Linked DNA regions of Homo sapiens. The protein of the gene in region 1 purifies or fractionates together with the protein of each later gene. This does not show direct contact. Each region holds a gene or a part of one and is shown in the gene's direction. Other genes may lie near its edges.

What was found.
Region 2: the proteins of SFXN5 (region 1) and NPTN purify together in Homo sapiens (co-immunoprecipitation; one large-scale study listed by IntAct). This does not show direct contact.
Region 3: the proteins of SFXN5 (region 1) and ALDH1L2 purify together in Homo sapiens (co-immunoprecipitation; one large-scale study listed by IntAct). This does not show direct contact.
Region 4: the proteins of SFXN5 (region 1) and RAB18 purify together in Homo sapiens (co-immunoprecipitation; one large-scale study listed by IntAct). This does not show direct contact.
Region 5: the proteins of SFXN5 (region 1) and ATP1A3 purify together in Homo sapiens (affinity purification with mass spectrometry; one large-scale study listed by BioGRID and IntAct). This does not show direct contact.
Region 6: the proteins of SFXN5 (region 1) and PLXDC2 purify together in Homo sapiens (affinity purification with mass spectrometry; one large-scale study listed by BioGRID and IntAct). This does not show direct contact.

The regions. Positions count from the first base shown.
Region 1 is NC_000002.12:72,998,713-73,002,212, reverse strand, and holds part of SFXN5 (sideroflexin-5), read left to right. Parts: intron 1-634; coding exon 635-688; intron 689-1,725; coding exon 1,726-1,782; intron 1,783-3,198; coding exon 3,199-3,264; intron 3,265-3,500. UniProt on the Homo sapiens protein: Mitochondrial amino-acid transporter. Transports citrate. Does not act as a serine transporter: not able to mediate transport of serine into mitochondria.
Region 2 is NC_000015.10:73,623,390-73,626,889, reverse strand, and holds part of NPTN (neuroplastin isoform b precursor), read left to right. Parts: intron 1-3,500. UniProt on the Homo sapiens protein: Probable homophilic and heterophilic cell adhesion molecule involved in long term potentiation at hippocampal excitatory synapses through activation of p38MAPK. May also regulate neurite outgrowth by activating the FGFR1 signaling pathway.
Region 3 is NC_000012.12:105,046,459-105,049,958, reverse strand, and holds part of ALDH1L2 (mitochondrial 10-formyltetrahydrofolate dehydrogenase precursor), read left to right. Parts: coding exon 1-51; intron 52-2,989; coding exon 2,990-3,060; intron 3,061-3,143; coding exon 3,144-3,249; intron 3,250-3,500. UniProt on the Homo sapiens protein: Mitochondrial 10-formyltetrahydrofolate dehydrogenase that catalyzes the NADP(+)-dependent conversion of 10-formyltetrahydrofolate to tetrahydrofolate and carbon dioxide.
Region 4 is NC_000010.11:27,524,804-27,528,303, forward strand, and holds part of RAB18 (ras-related protein Rab-18), read left to right. Parts: intron 1-2,024; coding exon 2,025-2,086; intron 2,087-3,500. UniProt on the Homo sapiens protein: The small GTPases Rab are key regulators of intracellular membrane trafficking, from the formation of transport vesicles to their fusion with membranes.
Region 5 is NC_000019.10:41,984,231-41,987,730, reverse strand, and holds part of ATP1A3 (sodium/potassium-transporting ATPase subunit alpha-3), read left to right. Parts: intron 1-1,501; coding exon 1,502-1,615; intron 1,616-1,732; coding exon 1,733-1,867; intron 1,868-2,307; coding exon 2,308-2,425; intron 2,426-2,544; coding exon 2,545-2,813; intron 2,814-3,500. UniProt on the Homo sapiens protein: This is the catalytic component of the active enzyme, which catalyzes the hydrolysis of ATP coupled with the exchange of sodium and potassium ions across the plasma membrane.
Region 6 is NC_000010.11:20,211,432-20,214,931, forward strand, and holds part of PLXDC2 (plexin domain-containing protein 2 isoform 1 precursor), read left to right. Parts: intron 1-237; coding exon 238-298; intron 299-3,500. UniProt on the Homo sapiens protein: May play a role in tumor angiogenesis.

The DNA.
Region 1 (3,500 bases):
AAATATTAGAAATCTATGTTTCATTCAGTTGCTTAAACCTGGTATAGGTTTTTGCTTCATGGAAATTCACAGATAACAGATACAAATTCCCCCAACTTGTATTTACAAAGCACTTAAGGCCTTTGAAATGATTTTTGTTTAATCCTCGCAAAAATCCTACGGGAAGGCTAGGGTGAGCAGTCAGGTAACCTGAGTGGAAACGAAGGTATTCCTTTTGTTTGCTTGTTTTTATTGCCCCCCTAATTGTGGAAATAATACATGTCTGTTGTTTAAAAGAATACAGAAATATTTAAGATTGTGCAAAAGTAATCTGCAACCCAACCTCCAGAGACATCCACACTACAGGTTTTTTCATGCTTGAAGATAATGTGTGTATGCATGTGTTTGTGTATATCGTTATATATAAAATGATTTTTCTTTAAATAAATAAGATTATGCTGTAATATAATTCTGCAACTTGGTTTTTTCCCATCACACAGCCTCTCCCTCAATGAACCTCAGTTTGTATGTACACGGCATACCACATCAGTTTGTACAGATCCAGCTCACTCATTTGTGGTAGCGTATTTTTTCTTTGCAAAAGCATAGGATGTTTCTTCTGCCTTTTTCAGCATTTCTTCTCTCTTGCTCATAGGTAGTCGGTCTTCTCTTGCCCAACCAGACACTGGCATCCACTGTCTTCTGGCAGGTAACAGTCTCGCAGCAAACAGGGCTCCTGAAGGAAGGGCCCACACAGGTGCTGGTTAAGAACTCCCTGCTGTGGTGTCTCCTGCCCCGTCCAGACCCCGTGTAGGGTCAGTCCACCCCAACACCACCCCTAGCCCAGAAGCCACTGAAGGAAAACCAGGACTTTGGCCCTGCTGAGCAGGTCTCCAGCAGCCCAGCATGTCTCAATCCACCATGTGTCACTCTAACCTTTGGACAGAGGTCATGAGGGCTGCGTGCCCCTGCCTGGAACATGCTGGCTTGTCAGTGGGGTGGCCCCCACTCTGCCCCTTGGCTGCTCATCCCAAGGCCAGTGACCCTGAGGCCCATAGCCTCATTTTGACATCAGCCTCCCCCACATCTGCTGAGGAAGCTAAATCCACCCCTAACCTGAGGTTGTGAAGTGCATCACAGACCCTGGTCCCTGCTCTTGGAGACAGTCTGGGTTGTGATGCCATGAAAACTGAGGATATCTCTGTGTTTGTGTGTGCAGAGAAAGACGGGCAGGAAGGAAAACCTGTCTGTCTTCTAGGAGAAAATGTCAGTCTTCCCTGAACTAAACTCCTGCCGGCCTCTGTGTCTGGGAACTGGAGGTGCAGGATACTGGACTGGGAGATTTTTGAAAGAATTGTAGGGCTGTCAGTCATTCTAGGCCAACTTTTGTCCAGCAGGTAATATAATAAAGATGGTGTGACAAAGGCAGTGGGGTCTGCAGGGGCAGTGAATGCCATCATTCCAAGAGAGGTGACTGTCTCAGGATCAGGTGGACTACTGGGGTGCGCAGGACCCCATTCAGGAACCGAGAGACTTCCCGAGAGGCAGGGCTTCCAGTGCTAACACCAGCACAGCCCTGGGCAAACCAGGACGGTCAGTCATGCTGACCGGCAGCATGGGCGGCACCATGTGAGCTGGAGACCGCATGCTGTGCCTTTCTGGGGATGTGTGGCCTCCTGGGGTCCAGGCCTGGCTTCCAGGGAGGTGACCACTCCTTCCCTGACTTCTCTCATCATTGCCTTTCAGTGGCTGAACCAGAGCCACAATGCCTGTGTCAACTATGCAAACCGCAATGCGACCAAGGTGAGCATCACTGCCCTCTCCCCAGTGGTGGGGTTCAGGCTAGGGAGGCCCAGTCATCCTCCCTACAGCGTGACATGCCACCATCAGTGGCTGCCTCTTGGTTAAGCATGGCCCTCCTCTAGATATCTTATTTAAAATGCCAGCCCTTCAGGTGGGTGGCCGACTCAGACATGACTCAGCTGAGGTCAGCTGCAGTTTCTGGGCCAGGAGCCCTCTGGGGAGGGGCTGTTTACATGAAGTGAAGAAGGCCCATTAAATGGGAGCAGTGCAAGGGATGAGTTCGGCTGGCTTTCAGATTCTTCTTGGGTAGCTCTTACATTTGGGTTTTGGATCATGATGGTATCAGCTACTTGGGGGCAAAATTCCCATAAAGCTTCCTCCAAAATTTCTGGAAGCTGCCTTAGCGCTCCCAGGTCCCGACTGCTGGCCACAAGCTGAAGGGCTGCTCCTGAGTGGGGAGGGTCCAGGGCTGGTAACTCCCCCCCAGAGCCCCTGCACTCCTTGGAGAGCTTGTGGTGGAGGCCCAGTCACCCTTCTGTTGTCCAGGAAGGGCTGCTGGGCCCCTGCTTTGCTGGCAAGGCCACCTCTCCCCAACTTCAATTCAAAGGCAAAGAAGGCAGGATGCATCTAAGTCCCCTTTGGGGGCCTGTCAGTTTGGGGTAGAGGAGAGTCCTAACATTTGCTCACCTTGGGGGAGAGGAGGGGAATAGGAGCTGGCCTGGGCCATAGGAATTGAGAGGCCTGATATGCTGTGGCTGCCCCCTGACATCTAAACCTCCACCCCAAGTCTCTCTCATAGGCTTCACATATGGCCATCTCTGCTTGGATGACTCCCTTTATCTTAAACCAGACACTTCTAGACCTGCAGTTGTAGCACAGGGCAAGTTCCTTAGCTTTTTCTTAATTGTCTGTGTTGGAACTTGGGGTATATTATTCTCTAGAGATATTGGGCAGCTATCATCTGTTGACATGGGAGCCCAGCTGTTCCATGGGCTGGCAAGGCCTGTGAGAGCCTTGACACTGGCATTTCCACCTAGAAAGCGCTCCAGATGCCAAATGGCCCCCTTGAAACATTTAGCCTCTAAACTGAAGACTGCTTGCCCCAGCCTTCAATGGTCCATGTTAGCCTTGCTGTTCTCCACCTCCACCCAGCACTGTCTGCCAGTGACCTTTCTAGAACAGGGCAGGAGTGAAGTGGGCCCTTCAGTATCTCCCTGGATACTGGTGATTTATATTTCTGCATTGGGAACTGAGCTGAGGGTGGCCTGATCCCTTTGAGTCCTGAGGGGCCTCTTCCTTCTACCCACTTTCCAGGCTGGTGGGCAGGATGCTTCTTGCTGGCTGGGACAGCTTACAAGGGGAAGTATGGGAGCTTTGGGCACCCAGCAGGCCTGAAATTCTGCCTCTGTTTTCCAGCCTTCACCTGCATCCAAGTTCATCCAGGGATACCTGGGAGCTGTCATCAGCGCCGTCTCCATTGCTGTGAGTACTCCCTCCCCTGCTCCTTCTTGGCTCTGCTGCTCTGGGGCCACCCCGCTCAGCATTGCAGGTGGATGCTTGTCTGAGGGCCAGGCCAGGCAAGGATTTGGGAGACAGGTTTCTGTGGGTGGAGGAGTCAGGACAGGCTTTCCAAGCCGAGAAGAGGCTCCAGTAGACAGAGCACAACCTGGTGCTCCCTGTAATGGAGAGCAGGTGGGGAGGTGAGGTTGTGCCTGGGG
Region 2 (3,500 bases), on another chromosome or scaffold:
ACTTCAAATTTACTAGACAGTGAAATATAAATGAGATGGTATGAAATCACTCTGAAAGTATTAGGGTTGGATATATTATGTAAGTTTCTATAATTAGAAAGCATTAAGTCCCAAATCGTACCAATAGTTTTAATCATATCTAAATGGATACTCACATACTAAATGTGATTAAATATAAAATGCATAACGAAATGTCACATCCTTTCCTGATAGAATACTAATAAGGCATAGTATTTCATGTGCAGGAAGATACAGGAAAACACACAAGTAAGAGTTTGTTTTGCATATATAAATTGTTATGCCTTTGAGATTCTTTTCTTCCTGATGGTAGGATTTGGAAACCATTGGACTAGATGATGTCTAAATTTCCTTTCAGTTCTAAAAATTACTAAATATCTTGCCCTTATAGCTTAGATACTGTCTCCAATAGGTTAAAGGCTCAGAGATGATAACACTTTCTGTTTAAAAGTTTTTAGAAACTTACTTTTGAATATAATGAAAATTAACTTTGAGGCATGCACTGTTTTGAAATCTAAATGCCTCTAAATCTACTTCAGACAACCCTTGCAGTTCTTGTTTCAAGGGAGGCAGAACCGTGTCTGTTATGCAGAGATCTTATATTAAACTTGCTGGGAAAATTGCCAGTGTGAATAAAGAAGTGAATATTCCTGCCAGGTAGGTAGGTATTTTATGATCTTTCTGTTGGCTGAAAGTGGTTGACTAATAAAGAGACAATGAAACACACTTAACTATTTGTATTTTTATGTTATCTTTCGAGAAAGTTTGTTTTCTATATATGAGTTAGTTTCTGCAGTCCCTTATGCATTTTTTAAGACCTGGAAATCCGTCCATTATAGTCGAAGAAGGCAACCCCAAGTGTTAACTGAATTAAATCCTAGCAAGTTCCTTGATTGTTATTCCTTAGAAACATTGTGTTTAAAGGTCTCAAGTTGTAAACATTCATGGTACTACTTTGTTATCTGTTAGGTCCATTTCTTTTCCTTTTTTTCTTTTAGATCTTTAGAATTTCAAACATGTACAAAAATAGATTAAGTAATGAATAAACCCCTGTGTATTCATCATCTAGTTTCAGCTACACCCTTGCTACTTATTAATTTAAAAATAACCTAAAAATTACATTGCAAACTAGAATTTTCTAGGACCTGAAATGTAGTCAGTAGGGGTTAGTTTATATGAGTAAAAGATAATATTTGGTTCACATGTAATCATGTTGAAATTACTTGAAAAATAAAGCTCTTGGCCGGACGCGGTGGCTCACTCCTGTAATCCCAGCACTTTGGGAGGCTGCGGTGGGCGGATCACGAGGTCAGGAGATCGAGACCATCCTGGCTAACACGGTGAAACCCCATCTCTACCAAAAATACAAAAAATCAGCCAGGGGTGGTCGCCGGCACCTGTAGTCCCAGCTACTCGGGGCTGAGGCAGGAGAATGGCGTGAACCCGGGAGCCGAGAACATGCCACTGCACTCCAGCCTGGGTGACAGGGCCAGACTCCGTCTCAAAAAAAAAAAGCTCTTTAGAAAAAGGCTTTCAAACTTTTTTGTCTGTGACCCAGATAGAGAAGTAGTTTTTGACTAATAGAAATTTATAACAAAATTACACAAATATGTAATATCTTGTGAAACATTACCTATTATTAATCTGTGTGAGGTAGTTAAGAGAACCATAGTGACCTTCTAAATTGAATTCACAATTCATGGGCCGTGAAACTCAGTTTGAAAAACAGCATTTTCAGGTATGGAGTAGTTTGGGGCTTTTGTTTATTTTTTACATGCCATGTTAGTCTGGAATAATTATGATTTTTGTTAACACAAGGATTTTCACTAGACATTTATCAGTAATATCAGCATATACTGTTATTAGTCATTATGAGTAAAGAAAATAAAACATTTTGGATTTATACATTAGCCATTATATATAGCGATTTTTTTTCCTTTTAGAACTTTAGAAAAAGGGGAAGCCACAGTAATTTGAATATAATCAAGACATAACTTTTCCAGTATATTCAGTTGACCTTCCTTTTAAATTAGACCTTGTGTTCCTTATTCCTGAGCCTTTGAGTTTGCAGGGCTGGGAGTACTAATGTTTATTCTAAGCCAAATGCTTTACTTGGTTGCTGTAGTCTGAGGCACATTTCTGTTGAGTACAGATTGACTTGAATACTGGCCAAGGGAAGAGAGAGAGAGGGTAAGCAGAACCATCACTAAAGAATCATCTGCCGTTCATGTTTAAGATCCTAGAGTAGTGGGATTATTTCCTAGTTTTTAGACACTGCTTCCTGGAGGAAAAAAAGGCAACAAGATGTCCTCCTTTGTTGGCAACTATCTGTGAAAAACTTCTAAATTCATAGATTGAAGGAATGTGTTAAATTTAACTTGGGATTTTTTTGATTATACGAGTTTAGCAGGTTTGGGAATCATTGCCGAACAACTGGAAAAAAATAGCACAAGGAGCTCCAGCATTGAAATTATATTCATTAATGCTGAATCTCAAATCGTGCATCAAGGGAGATGAAATAAATGGCCTTAATGCAAACCAGGAAACTGCTACCTGGAAAAAAGCAAGTATAAAGAGGTTTCAAATAGCTTGCAGTGAACTGTCATTGAATTACCCTTACACAAATAACATAGTGATCACGTATCAAAAGTATGGTGCTAACCTAACAGCATTACTGTTTTCTACTAGGATTGAACTCCAAATAAGAATACTTTCTAACCACATTTTGGAAGAGACATAGAATCTATGTTGATGGTAGCTTAAGATTTAGGAGAAAAGCCTGAAGGAGCTAAACTTAGGAACAGGGAGCACTAGGGGGATGTGATTATCTATTAATACTTTCAAGGTAGCAGTGTAAATGAAGTAAGGGAATTAGGCAGTCTCCAAAGATGGATGGGCTGTATCAAAGAGCAATGGCCTAGAGCACAGGGAAGAAAGCATAGGTTTAGTATTAAGATGATTTTAATGAAACTAGCGGAAGAATAGAGTTATTTGCACTCATCGTCAGAACCATTATAAGTAGGACAAAGAGCTGGTTGAGAGGGTACTCAAAAACAGAAATGATCTCTTTCTTACATAGTACTGTGCTTGTTTAGAAGCTCAATGAGAGAAAAATATGGAAATGAATATGAAATGAAATGGACTTTTCAAAAGTTAGTGTGTTTTTCTGTTGTTTGTTTTGTTTTGAAACAGGGTCTCACTCTGTTGCCTAGGCTGGAATGCAGTGGCGTGATCATTACTCACTGCAGCATCAACCTTCCAGGCTCAGGTGATCCTCCTGCCTCAGCTTTCCAAGTAGCTGGGACCACAGGCGCATACCTCCATGCCTGGCTAATTTTTGAATTTTTTGTGGAGATGAGGTCTCCCTATGTTGCCCAGGCTGGTCTCAAACTCCTGGACTAAAGTGATCCTCCTGCCTGTGCCTCCCAAAGTGCTGGGATTACAGGCATGAGCCACAGCCCCCCTGCCAGCCAGAAGTTTTT
Region 3 (3,500 bases), on another chromosome or scaffold:
ATGTCTGTGCAAACATTCAGATATTTTGCTGGCTGGTGCGACAAAATTCAGGTAAGCACAAATATTATTTGTTCTGAAAGAAAAAGGGACTAACATTGATTAGTTTGTACCAGGCACTGTGTCAGATCCTCTTTTTATGTAGATTTTTTTACACCAACATAACAGGGTTGTCTCAATCCATTTTATGCTGCTGTAACAGAATACCTGAGACTAGGTAATTTATAAAGAACAGAAATTTATTCTCTTACAGTTCTGGAGGCCGGGAAGTCTAAGATAAAGGTGTCAGCAGGTTTGGCCTCTAGTTTTAAGATGGTGCCTTGTAGTGCATCCTCTGGAGCAGAGGAACGGTGTGTCCTCACCTGGCAGAAGAGTAGAAGAGAGTGAATCCACTCCTGCAAGCCCTTTTTATAGCGGCATTGATCCATTCATTAAGGTGGAGCCCTCACGACCTAAACACCTCCTATTAGGCCCTACCCCCCAACACCGTGGCATTAGGGGTTAAGTTTCCAGCACATGCATTTTAGGAGACACTTTCAGACCCTCGCAATGGTTATAACAACTACGGGAAGTAAATGGATAGCTCTTATCCCCTTATTACATGTGAGCAAACAAAGGCTTGAGGACATGGATGCCTTTCCTATAATTTGTAGCAAGTAACCCATACGACCAGATTTGAAGTCAAGATTTTCCGAATCTAAAGTCTAATGATCTTCTTTGCATTTTACTATAATATCTCCTGAGGGTGTTGAATAGTTTTCTAGACACTTTGGAGAAGCCTAGTATCATGTAGGGTTTACAAATTCAAATACCTACAGAGGCCAGAGAGCTACCGTAGATGGTGGAAGCAGACTGAGTATAAGAAAAACTTTGTCTTTGAATATGTGTCCTAGGAGAAATAAATTAAAAAAAAATTTTTTTTTCTTTCTTTTGAGATGGAGTCTTGCTCTGTCGCCCAGGCTGGAGTGCAGTGGCGCCATCTCAGCTCACTACAACCTCGCCTCCTGGGTTCAAGCAATTCTCCTGCCTCAGCCTCCCTAGTAGCTGGGATTACAGGTGTGCACCACCACGCCTGGCTAATTTTTGTATTTTTAGCAGAGACGGGGTTTCACCATGTTGGCCAGGCTGGTCTCGAACTCCTGACCTCAAGTAATTCACCTGCCTTGGCCTCCCAAAGTGCTGGGATTACAGGCATGAGCCACTGCGCCTGGCCAAAAAAAAATTTTTTTAAAGAAAAACTTTGATAAAGATACAGGAATAATAAATAAATATTTCATTTTACTGTATGATAATAAATAGCAAACACAGGGTGATCAACGGCAACAACACTAGCTCCAGCACTGGGGATACAAAAGGGAGATGTAGGGCTTGTAGCAAACTGCAGTATGCATGTTCCTCATAGACTCATAATAACCACTGCAGTACCAGTCATTGCAACCACATTCCCAGCAGCAAAAAGAAGGAAGTGAGAAAGGGGGAGTGGTAAGAGGAATTTAACAAAGCATTCTTACCTTCCCAGTACCTTTTGCTCATATCCCTCCTTGGCCATCTCTATCTGCTAAGGAGACTGGGAAACATCATATTTCATCTGCATACATTGCTGCCACCAATGTTAATGTACAGTCAGACAGACCTGAGTCAAGTCTCAGCTCTGGCCCTTATCAGCCGATGTTGTTAAAGTTATTTTCTCTCTCAGAACCTTACTTTCCTCCTCTATAAAATGGTCACAGTAATACATACTTTGCAAGTTATGTTTTGAGGATTGGAAACGAGTATTTGTACACTACAGGATTAGACAAGTCTGCAACATAGCAGGTTTGCACAAAAATGAAATTTTTATTGTGGTTCAGCCACAAAGTCATGCATATATTGATATTTACTAATGGTAGTTCAGGTCCATCTGTTATCCCCAATTATGAAACCCAAATAGTTCTGAAACCTGAAAATTGTTTGATTGGTTCAAACTCGTTTGATGCCAAACCCTGACCTAAATGAACATAATCTATTAATAATATTTATTTACATCACTTAGAGTGAATATTCAAATGTTTCAGTGAATAAATACTAGCATGTTTGATTATGGGAGGCTTACCCAAATCCTGCTGGGGTAGTAGATAATATAAGGTATATGCACTATATTACACTTCTAAAGTCCAAAAAATTCTGAATTCCAAAACATAACTGGCTACAAGTGTTTTAAGAAATTGTACACCCTATTAGTAGTAGCAATAATATTTTATGTGGCAAAGCAAATGAATAGCTTTCATTAAAGGCTACTATTGTGATTCCGTTAGGATTAAGTTGGCTGCATATAACAGCCAACTTATTCCTGTTTTTTTAATCCTATTATTTTTCTCTCACTTTCAAGGAGTCCAGAGACAGGCAGTTAGGACTAGTATGTGAGATGCAAACTCTTTTTCTGTCTTTGCCAGGCCATGTGACCTCCACCCTGAAGGTTGACTCATGGTCTCAAGAAAACCACTGCAGTGCCAGCCATTTCAGCAACAGTCTAAACAGGAAGAAGGAGGAAGCAGACATGGAGGGAAGAATAAAAGAGTAGAGTTAGCCTAGTTTAAGTAGCATTCCCCTTCCAATGCCTTGTGCTTGTATCTTCCACTGACCATCCCTAATCTGGAGAATGGGAACCATAGTATTTGATCTGGGCATATTCCTGTCCCCATTATTAATATAGGGATTCTGTTACTAAGGACAGAGGGGAGAGTGGATAATAGGCAGGCAGTTCACATTCTCTGCCAGGCCAAGCAATTAGGAATGGACTAAATTAGAATTATGTTTATTCTTCTGTGTTTCATGGTTCTCTTGAGAAACAAATAGCTGTTCCTTCTTTGGCATGAATATAGTTCTTATCAACAAACGCTCTTTTCATATCAGCTAACAAAAAGTAAGAGAGGAAGACAGAAAATGGATCCTTTGAGATGAAATTTACTTATTTAAATTAGTAAAATAAGTATCAACTTTTCTCATTCTTTAGGGTTCTACTATTCCAATCAACCAGGCCCGTCCAAATCGCAATCTGACCTTCACCAAGAAAGAGCCACTCGGGTAAGATAAGGAGAGTGCCTCTGAGTGAATCATGAGTTGTGTTATTTGAAACAACTAAGCATGTCGAATTTCTTCCCCTGCAGTGTCTGTGCCATTATTATTCCCTGGAACTACCCGCTGATGATGCTGGCATGGAAGAGTGCTGCGTGTTTGGCAGCAGGCAATACCTTAGTGCTCAAGCCAGCACAGGTAAGGCCACAAAGGGCCAGGTGCAGAATTGCCTCCTCTCTTATATCCAGTACTTCAAAAAAGTGAAATATATTTATAAATAGCAAACAAAAATGAGATGGTATGGCATTTTTCTCATATATCATGGACAACTTTTCATGTCAGTAAATATTCATTTTTAATAGCTACCTAATACATTGTATGGAGATTCCACAATTTAAAATTTTCATAATAATAGAAGCAAGCATGGTGCACATCAGTGAAGTCCAATG
Region 4 (3,500 bases), on another chromosome or scaffold:
AAGCAGTTTTAGCATGTGAGATCTGAAGAGCTCAATTGCTGCATGTGAGATTCACCAGAGGAACCTAGGGAAGATGACTGGGGACTTTAGGGGTCTGGATTTAGATTAGGTGCCCCTTCAGGCTACCTGTGTCTGTTGGCTTTGATGGCAGGACGACAGTGTTCAGTGTCTCCTGTGGATGGGTATTGGTAAGTTTCAGATATAATATGTCAAAAGCATAACTTAGAGACATTGTTAGTTATCCACATGCAAATTATTCTTATGTCAGAGACAGTCATTAGACTGTTCACAACAAACTTGCAGAACCAGGAAATAATAATAGAGAAAGAGGAGTTGGGGTATGGGAAGAAAACACATACATTCTGGAAGCGGTGGGTTTCTTTTCTTGGGTAAACAAATTAGCTCATAGGAAAGATGCTTGTCTGCTCTTGAACATGTATCTGGGATTATTAAGGAAAAAAATTAGTTCTTTATATACTCCCTGAAAAACCTTGAGAATTTAACTGTAGAGTGTGCATGACAGAGGCTATCTCTGTGTAGTGTCTGCCAGTGGCTGTCATTTAGTACCTGCACCAAGTCAGAACCATTTTCCTCCTCTGAATTTTCTCAGGGTTTGTGCTTTGCTTTTTTTTTTTTAAAGCAATAGGAAGAAAATGTAGATAATTTCATGTTGTTTATGTAGATGGTTCCACTTTTAAAATGGCATAGTAACTTCTTTATTTAGACCTGGTTAATACAAGATTATTTAGCATGTGGGATTTTTTGTTTGTTTGGCTGTGAAGAAATTTTATATTTAGGTTTTTGTTGGGCTATGTAATCAACACTGTCCTTTTACTAATGGTTGCCCATCATTCTAGGCTTTATCAACTCCTTTATCACCCCAGCTCAAAACACCAAACTTAAAAATATATATATTTGGTATACAGAAAGACCTGGCATAATGCACATTTTGAATGTGCATTTTTATTACTGAATTTGTATATGTAATGGATCACCACAAGTCTTCCAAGAATTACAAATATATTTCCATATTGGTGACAGGTGTTCTATTAAGCATTTAGTATGTGAGGGTGCTGTTCATCTTAGTTGGGGCTGTTCTGAATTAATTGTGACAAGCTAATAAGATATTTTGAAAGTTTCTTTCCAAGCTTCTTGAGCTAATGTTTTCCCTCTGGCCAGTGGGGTAGACTGAACTCTTGAAAGACATGTGGGCAGTTGCTGTTCATTTAAGCCAGATGGCATGTGTCAACTCCTTTTCCTGGAAAGGGAGAGGTTTCTTTTTTGGCTGCTGTAATAAAGCCTTGTGGACTTCTTATGAAACTCTTTTCTTTACATAAATTAGTACTTATAGAAGCTTTTCATAGAACTTTGGGCACTCCTCTTTCACTTATGAAGATTCTTAGATGGTTGTATATAAATGTTTTCATGTATAAATTGTTTTATTGAAATTGTGCTGTAGCAAGTTATTGATTAGGTTATTACATAAAAATAGTATTTTTTTAGGATAAAAATAAAGAGATTATATGACAAGGAGTGAGTGGCCCTTTAATATTTTTACCGGTTCCCCAAGCTGCTTACAGTCAAGATCTGAGTTAGTGGTTGGCTGGCAGTGGACAGCACTCTTAACAGTAGCATGTGGATGCTTAGGGAGCCCCTGGAAGCTGCCATGACCCACAGTCAGCCATGGATAGTCTTCTTTATGTGAGCATTGTAATTGCAGCTCTTGACTTTTAACACGCATAGTGAGTTATCACCTTAAATTGAATTTCGTTTTTCCTTTTTGGAAGAATAGAAGGTAGGTGAGTGAGTGAATTCTACAAGCATTTGATTTTCATTTATCCTGATTAAATCCTAAGATCCTGGATTTTAATGACACTTTTTATCTCCACATCCAGAATTCTAAGAAGTTGGGGTGTGAATTGGGCATTTGATAATAGTGACTTTTCTGTTTTCTGGTTTTCTTGGTAATGGATTTTAAAAGTCTGTTTTACTGGGAGACTTATCAAAATTTTCATTTCTTTAAGGTGTTGACTTTAAGGTGAAAACAATTTCAGTGGATGGAAATAAGGCTAAACTTGCAATATGGGTAAGAGTTTTTAAAATGTATTTTTAAAATATTAAACTTTACTTTTTAAGGATGCAGAAATTGATTTGTGTAGTGTTCTAGAGGTGGTGAATGAACAATTTGTATTAAATAACTTTTGGGAGATTTGATACTGATTAAAGGATAAACAGTAATGTCTTATAATTGGGTAATTAGGCAGCTATGTTTTGTTTAAATTTTCACAATGCATAATTCTTTATGAATATTTCAAAACAGAACAGAATATTAAAAAATCATCTCATCTGCCAAAGAGAATCATAATTGGATATGTTTCTTTGAAGTTTTAAAAAGACCATCTAGACTGAACTAACACTAAAGACAATTTTTAAGGGGAGGAGGAATGACGTGATATTTAGGAAAAAATTTTATTTTTCTTGTTTGTTAGTATAGATATTTATAAAATTTGAGGTTTCAAACTTTGGGCTTATTTTTAATGCCTCGTTTTTCCTTACTGGCTTCTTTTCGTTTTCCTGTCAATCCAACCATTCTGATCCCCGTTACTGTACTAGCTAGACCGCTCATGCTAGTGTCAAATAAGGTAGCATTAACTGTCAAAAATATCCAAGATGCTTAGTGTCTATGTTTGTCTCTCTCTGTGTCTCCCTTTCATCAGTCTATTTACCCACCCACATACCGATCTATCTATATCTGTCTATCTAAATATGATCGGTTATATATATATATGTATATTCTAAATATATACTGTTTTATATATCTATTTTTCACATAGACTGTGATAATTATACATATATGTTTGTAATATAAGAAATCATATTAGAACTGATCAGTCATCAAATCGAGACTTATTTCCACATGGTGGTTAAATGGTAAATGCTGTTTGTACATCAGTCACAGATTGAAAACAGCAAGTGTTCATGCATTGTATGATGTCATATTTCTTGGCATTCTCTGAATGGCACACTGTTTCTAATACACATTTATCCCCAAATAACAAATAATTGTGTAAGTGTGTTTAATGTTTTTATGTCAGTTTTTCCTAACATACAATACTTTAAATTTGTTAACCTGTTTGCCCCTTTCCCCCAAATATGTTTAATATCAATCAGAACGGTAATGTCTAACAGAAAACAATTTGGAAAATGTTGGACTAGAGTATGGTAAAATGTGTTGAACGATATAAGAATGTTGGCTTTTTCCATACTAAAGTGGGGGCCTGATTTCCATATGCTTTTCATGGTTAATTTATTATCCCTTTCCGGCCTTGCTGCTGCTTTGTGAAATCCGTAGATTAGAGTAGTATCTGAGACTTGCTGGTTGCAGTGAGATTTTTCTCTCATAGTTTCGTTTTGTTTTAAATTTATTTTCTAGTTCCTGCCTAATAAAAAGGCTGGCAGGTATTATTGAAGAGACATTTTTACCATAGGCCTATAAACAT
Region 5 (3,500 bases), on another chromosome or scaffold:
CAGCAGGATGTGTGAGCCGGGGCTCTGTCCCAAGGCTGTGTGACCTCAGCGGCCTTGAGAACAGACACCAGCAGGTGGTCATGGCTTGACAGATACCCAGAGTGAGTGTCACATAGAGACCCAGGCACACCCCGCTGCTGATACATCAGGGCCCATCCCCATAACACAGGGACACATTCGAGATGCAGCCTCAGATCCCATGCGCATAACACAGACCACACACCAGCCACACAGAGCTGCTCACCTGGGTAGGCGTGTGTGCACACACACGCATGTGCACGGAGGGTCAACGCAGATGCCACACCAGGATGTGGTTTCAAACATGGCCACCTAATTCAGAAACACAGACACAGACTCAGATATACACTGACAGAGAAACTCACACACACACTGACACGCACACACACACACAGCAATGCAGGCATAACCTGGTGACAGAGAGACATGAGAGTCAGGCACAGAGAGTGTCCTCAGATGTTCAAATCTAAACAGTCTTAGACATAAGCTCTCACAGAGAGGCAGAGCTGGAGACACAGAGACAGAGATCCACACACAGAGAACCAAAGAAGCTGCCTTGTAGAATGTAAAGTCAGGCATGCAGCCAGTCAGACAGACACATGGACAGACAGCCGCATCCCAGACTCAACATGTGCAGGAGGACAGACACACACACAAAACAGATGGACAAGTCGGGCATGGTGGCTCACGCCTGTCATCCCAGCACCTTGGGAGGCCAAGGCAGGAGGGTAACTTGAGACCAGGAGTTCCAGTAGCCTGAGTAACATACCCAGACAGACCCAGCCTCTAAAAAAACACAAAACATAGCCGGGCCTGGTGGCGCACACCTGTAGTCCTAGCTACTCCGGAGGCTGAGGAGGGAGGATTGCTTGAATCTGGGAGGTTGAGGCTACAGTGAACTGAGATTGTGCCACTGTACTCCATCCTAGGCAGCAGAGCGAGACCCTGTCTCAAAAAAAAAAAAAAAAAAAAATGCCAGGAAAGATGGCTCACACCTGTAATCCCAGCACTTTGGGAGGCCAAGGTGATAGATCACAAGGTCAGGAGATCAAGACCATCCTAGCCAACATGGTGAAGCCCCATCTCTACTAAAAATACACAAAATTAGCCAGGTGTGGTGGCATGCACCTGTAGTCCCAGCTACTCAGGAGGCTGAGGCAGGAGGATCGCTTGAACCAGGAGGCGGAGATTGCAGTGAGCCAAGATCATGCCATTGCACTCCAGCCTGGGCGACAGAGTGAGACTCTGTCTCAAAAAAAAAATCGACAGACCCTTAGATTCAAACACAACCATTACAGAAAGAGGGACTCAAGCACAAACAGGGGAGACTCAGACACACCAACCCTCATAACCAACCTAGGGTCAGACACACAAATACAGACCCCCACTGACACAAAGCTCCCTTCCCAGACTCCAGGCGAGCAGGGACTGGTGGAGAGTGGCTTGGGCGGCCCCTGATCAACATCCCCACATCTCCCCACAGCTGTACCTGGGCATCGTGCTGGCGGCCGTGGTGATCATCACTGGCTGCTTCTCCTACTACCAGGAGGCCAAGAGCTCCAAGATCATGGAGTCCTTCAAGAACATGGTGCCCCAGGTGAAGGGTGCCCAGCAAGGGGCCAGACGGGGGTGTTAGTGTATGGGCTGGGGGCCGGGCCCAGTGACCCCCAGGCAGAGGGAGTCTGGGAGGTGACATTACTCCATCCCACCTCAGCAAGCCCTGGTGATCCGGGAAGGTGAGAAGATGCAGGTGAACGCTGAGGAGGTGGTGGTCGGGGACCTGGTGGAGATCAAGGGTGGAGACCGAGTGCCAGCTGACCTGCGGATCATCTCAGCCCACGGCTGCAAGGTGGGCCTGGGCCTAGGGCCCGGCTTTACCCTCCCTCGGGCTGCCCAGGAGCTCAGGCCCAGCCCCTCCTCCCTCACACTCAGGAGTCCAGGTCCCAACCCCTCCTCCCTCAGACCCAGGAGTCCAGGCCCCCAGGCCCTCCTCCCTCAGACCCAGGAGTTTAGGCCCTGGGCCACCTCCTCACCCAACAGTCAGGAGTCCAGGCCCAGCCCTCACCTTTCGGAGATCCTTAGGGACCCTAGACCTTGGCCAGCAGCACTGTGCCTTCCCCACCTTCAAGATCCCAGCCTCTGGCCTCCCACACACCACTCACCCACTGGGCACCCAGGCTTCTAGCTGTGATCTCCAGGCACACAGGCTTCAGCCCCAAGCCCTGTACACAAATACCCTCCTGTCCCAGGCCCTGGACTGAACCCTCTCTCTGCTGCACCTACCCCCAGGTGGACAACTCCTCCCTGACTGGCGAATCCGAGCCCCAGACTCGCTCTCCCGACTGCACTCACGACAACCCCTTGGAGACTCGGAACATCACCTTCTTTTCCACCAACTGTGTGGAAGGTGAGGCGGGTGCAGAGAAGACACACAGCTGGGGCAGACACAGGGATGTGTCCCAGGGGGTCAGGCCTCCAGAACCTCCCTGAGCCACCCCACCTCAGCCTAACCCCTCTGGCCTGCAGGCACGGCTCGGGGCGTGGTGGTGGCCACGGGCGACCGCACTGTCATGGGCCGTATCGCCACCCTGGCATCAGGGCTGGAGGTGGGCAAGACGCCCATCGCCATCGAGATTGAGCACTTCATCCAGCTCATCACCGGCGTGGCTGTCTTCCTGGGTGTCTCCTTCTTCATCCTCTCCCTCATTCTCGGATACACCTGGCTTGAGGCTGTCATCTTCCTCATCGGCATCATCGTGGCCAATGTCCCAGAGGGTCTGCTGGCCACTGTCACTGTAAGGCCAGGCTCCTGGGTCTGGGTGGGGAGGGCCTGGGGGTCTGGGCTCCTGGGTCTGAGGGAGGAGGGGCTGGGATCCTGGACCCCTGAGTCTGAGGGAGGAGGGGCTAGAGGCCTGGACCCGTGTGTCTGGGGGAGGAGGGGCTGGGATCTGGACCCCTGGGTCCGGAGAAGGGGCTGGGGGCCTGGATCACAGTATTCTTGTGAAAGACAACTTGGGCCTGACTCAGAGGGCCTCATTAACAAAGCAAACAATCAAAGAAAGAAACAAACAAAAATCTTGAGAAACACTGGCAAGCCGTAAAGAGCCAACAATCCTATTGCAAAATTAAGAAGTGCACGCTCATGATGAAAAGTTGAAGAGTACATCAAGTTAAAAAATAAAATAATGAGGCTGGGTGCACTGGCTCACGCTGTAATCCCAGCACTTTGGGGGGCCAAGGCGGGCAGATCAGCTGAGGTCAGGAGTTCAAGACTAGCCTGGCCAACATGGTGAAACCCTGTCTCTACTGAAAATACAAAATTAGTGGGGCGTGGTGGCACATGCCTGTAATCCCAGCTACTCAGGAGGCTGAGGCAGGAGAATCGCTTGAACCTGGGAGGCGGAGGTTGCAGTGAGCCAAGATCACGCCATTGCACTCCAGCCTGGGTGACAAGAGTGAAACTCCATCTCAAAAATAAATAA
Region 6 (3,500 bases), on another chromosome or scaffold:
AGTGATTTGGTTGCCATGTGCGATCCTAACAGTGACATCCTAAGGAATGAGTGATTATTTAGCAACCCTCTAAATATTTCCCTGCTTCTCCAGTTGCGAGTTCTATAGAAGAGTTAATGTTATGCTAAACTGAAAATGTGAGAATGAACTACCTACTAATCTTTTACTTTTAATTTCTGTCCACCACCCTGCACCCTATCCTTCCTTTTCTGAACTGCATTGTGGTCTTCTTTGAAGATGTTCCAGTGGATTTGATCGTCATCGGCAGGACTGGGTGGACAGTGGATGCCCTGAAGAGGTACACATGCTTTATTGTGACAGAATCCTGGGACCAAGCTGTCATATACATGTGTTTTAACTGTTAATAATTTTTATTCAAAATTTATGCCCTAAAACTTAATGAAAGGAGAAGAATCCTTCTATAAGCCCAATGTCTGCAAATATTAGGGGTTCGATAACAGCTGGCTATTTTTGTTAAATTAGATAACATTTTCATTACATTGTAGCAACTTGCTACAACCCCTAATAGATGCAGACATGGGGCTTAACTATTTATATGTATTATCTCATTTCATTGTCATATTCATTCTATGAAGAACAGTGCCTGCACTGTCACTACCCCCATATTACCAAGGAGAGAAAGGGGAGGAGTGAGGGGAGCTTGTGGGGAGGGGTGAAGTGTGGGTTCTTGGAGAGTCAGGTAAATGGCTAGGGAATAGTAGGGCCAGGATTGGAATCTGTAGAGGAGTTCTCTTAAATGCTTGCTATTTTTCTAGGATGTACGAAACCATTGTTCCTCTTTGTAATTCAAACAGCAAGACCAGTGGTATTGTGGAGGGTGGAAGACTGCAGCAAATTGATGTGCTGTAATAAATGAGAAATTGTATAACATTAGTTGGCATAGAGAGATGGTATAATGTTAACTCTGAGGGAAACATGATAGAGACAAGGATGCAGTGAAGTCGTGTAAGCAATTGGATACCAGAAACAATTTTAACCCGTTTAAAAGCTTTGCAGTGACTCGCATTTATACTATCATTTCAAGATCATATAAAGATATCCTATAAAGTTTATGAAGAAAAGCATTTACTTCTTCTCCCTTCATTAAGTTTTGGGGTATCAATTTTGAATTAAAACTGCTAACAATTACAAAAGTTTAGCAAAGCAAGCCATGCCAAAATGCTGTTTTAAAAACTATTTGTTCAATGGTTACTTAGAGACTTTTTAAAAATTCATTTTTGGGGGGCATGTTTCATAAAGATCTTGAGCAATACATTTTTAAAAACATTCTTGAACTTTAAATGCAGTATTGCCAGTGTAGCTATAACCAACCTTTTGGCATTTCATTTAGGGAATGACAGCAGTGTGTGCTCATCCGTCTCACCTCACTTATCTAATAACGTAGTTCCAAAGAGTATCTATTGACAAAGCCATAGTTGTGTTTTGAGACAATCATTTCTTTCATATAATCAGTTACCTCAATATAAAATGTTGAAAATGAATATCTCCATATATGTAAAGATTGAGAATGTAATTCAGATGTATATTTTTTCTCCCAAATTTGGTTTATCTTTTCATTTTCTCTATGATTTTATTTCACTAACATTAATTATCAATTTAATCTGTCAAATGTATGAATCTTTTATTTTTATGATGAGTTTTATATGCCTGTGCATCTTCTTTTAGAAGAATTTTCCTACCAAATTCCATCTAGGTGTTATTTTTGTGTATTTTTTTCTGAATATTTTAAAGCTTTGTCTTACACGTCAAAATCTATTCCATTTGGAATTGGTTTTTATGTATTATATAAGGTAGAGATTCAGTTTCGTGGGGTTTTTTTTCTTGATGGATAGCCAAATTTCAAGCACCATTTGTTAACTAATCCTTTCTTTTGGCAATATCTTGCAAAGTCACCTGTTTTATGTATATTTTCTGGGCTCTCCTCTTCTAAAGCTCTGTCAGTACTTAGATCAGTGTCCCACTGTATTAATTTCTATTGTTTTATAAGAAATCTTACTATATACAGGACAAATCTCCTTACTTTTTCTTCTTCACAAGTGTTTGGGTATTTTAGGGCTTTTGTCCTTCATATAAATATTAAACTCACCTTGTCGAGATCTGTAATCCATCTATCAATACATCTTACTAACATTTTATTGGAAATACATTAAATTATGAATTAGATCACATTTCCTAATTACAGAGGCTTTTAAAATTTACCTTTTTTACTATTGACTTCTAGACTAATTGAGTCATCATCAGAGAACATGTTATGATCTTTAAAGTTGATTGGAAATTTTTCATGAACAAGTACATGGGCATTTTGTACAAAGGGTCTATGTGTGTTCAAGAAAAATGTGTGTTTTCCTGTTGGTTGGGTGTCAAGCTTGATAAATGTACTCTTCAGCTATACTTCTCCACTCTCTTTATTTTCACCTTCTGACTTCTTTGAAAGCTTGCCATTTTCATCTTTTCCTCATATTTTTAAACCTCTATTATATGTAATCTCTTTCCTTATTACTCTGTGCTGTATTTGGAGCAATTTCTTCAGATGTATTTACCGGTTTATTAACTCTCCCTTCATCTTGTTTAATATTCTATGTAATCTACTCACTGAAGTAGAAATTCCAACAAACATTTTTCATATCTAAAATTAAATTTGACACTTATTACATCTGCCAAGTATTTTATAGTTTCATGTGAACCGTTCATTTCTCAATTTTATCTTTTATGATTTTAAATATTCCGTGTATGATTTTTGTATATTCCATATTGGATGATCCCATTATCTAAAATTTTGGTGATCTAAATAGTGTGGTCATTGTTTTTGCTGATTCTTTCTCAGACAGCTATTTTTTTTTCTTTTTTAGTGTATATTTGTCTGATCCTATTCTAAGACCTAAATAGGTGATGTTTTCCCCCAAAGAAGATTTGATGATGGGATCCTCAGGATTTTCAGGCTACCATAAGTCTCTGCCCTAATGTGAGGAGGAGAAGTTCAGATTTTTCTCCCCTGTCTACTACTGCTGCAAGGCTTGTTCTCTTTAGAGCGATATTGATTTTGGATTTTTTTCCTCAGGGCAAATTCTGCTTTTTTAACTTCCCTTAATGTATACAGCTCCTACTGTCTTTATAGCACATAGCTTTTGCTTTGTTTTATTTTTTGAGTGGGGAGGGGAATAAACAATGGAAAGGCACCATTGGGATATTCTTTACCTCCTGCAAATCCTAAGGCTTTAAAATTCAAGTTTTATTCAGAATCTACTTGTTTTGTTATAGGAGGGCTATTTAGTTCCTTAGTCTGCCGTTACTGCCAAAAGCAATCTGAGCCTAGGATTTTACCTTAAACGTAGGGTGTTTACTGAACATTATTAGATCCTGTTTACGGAATACTAGGTCCTGTTCATTGACAGTAGAAACACAAAGAGAGAATAATATATGGCAAGTTCCATTCTATACTCCTTGAGTTTGAGATGTGTGTGACATTCACATGCAGACAC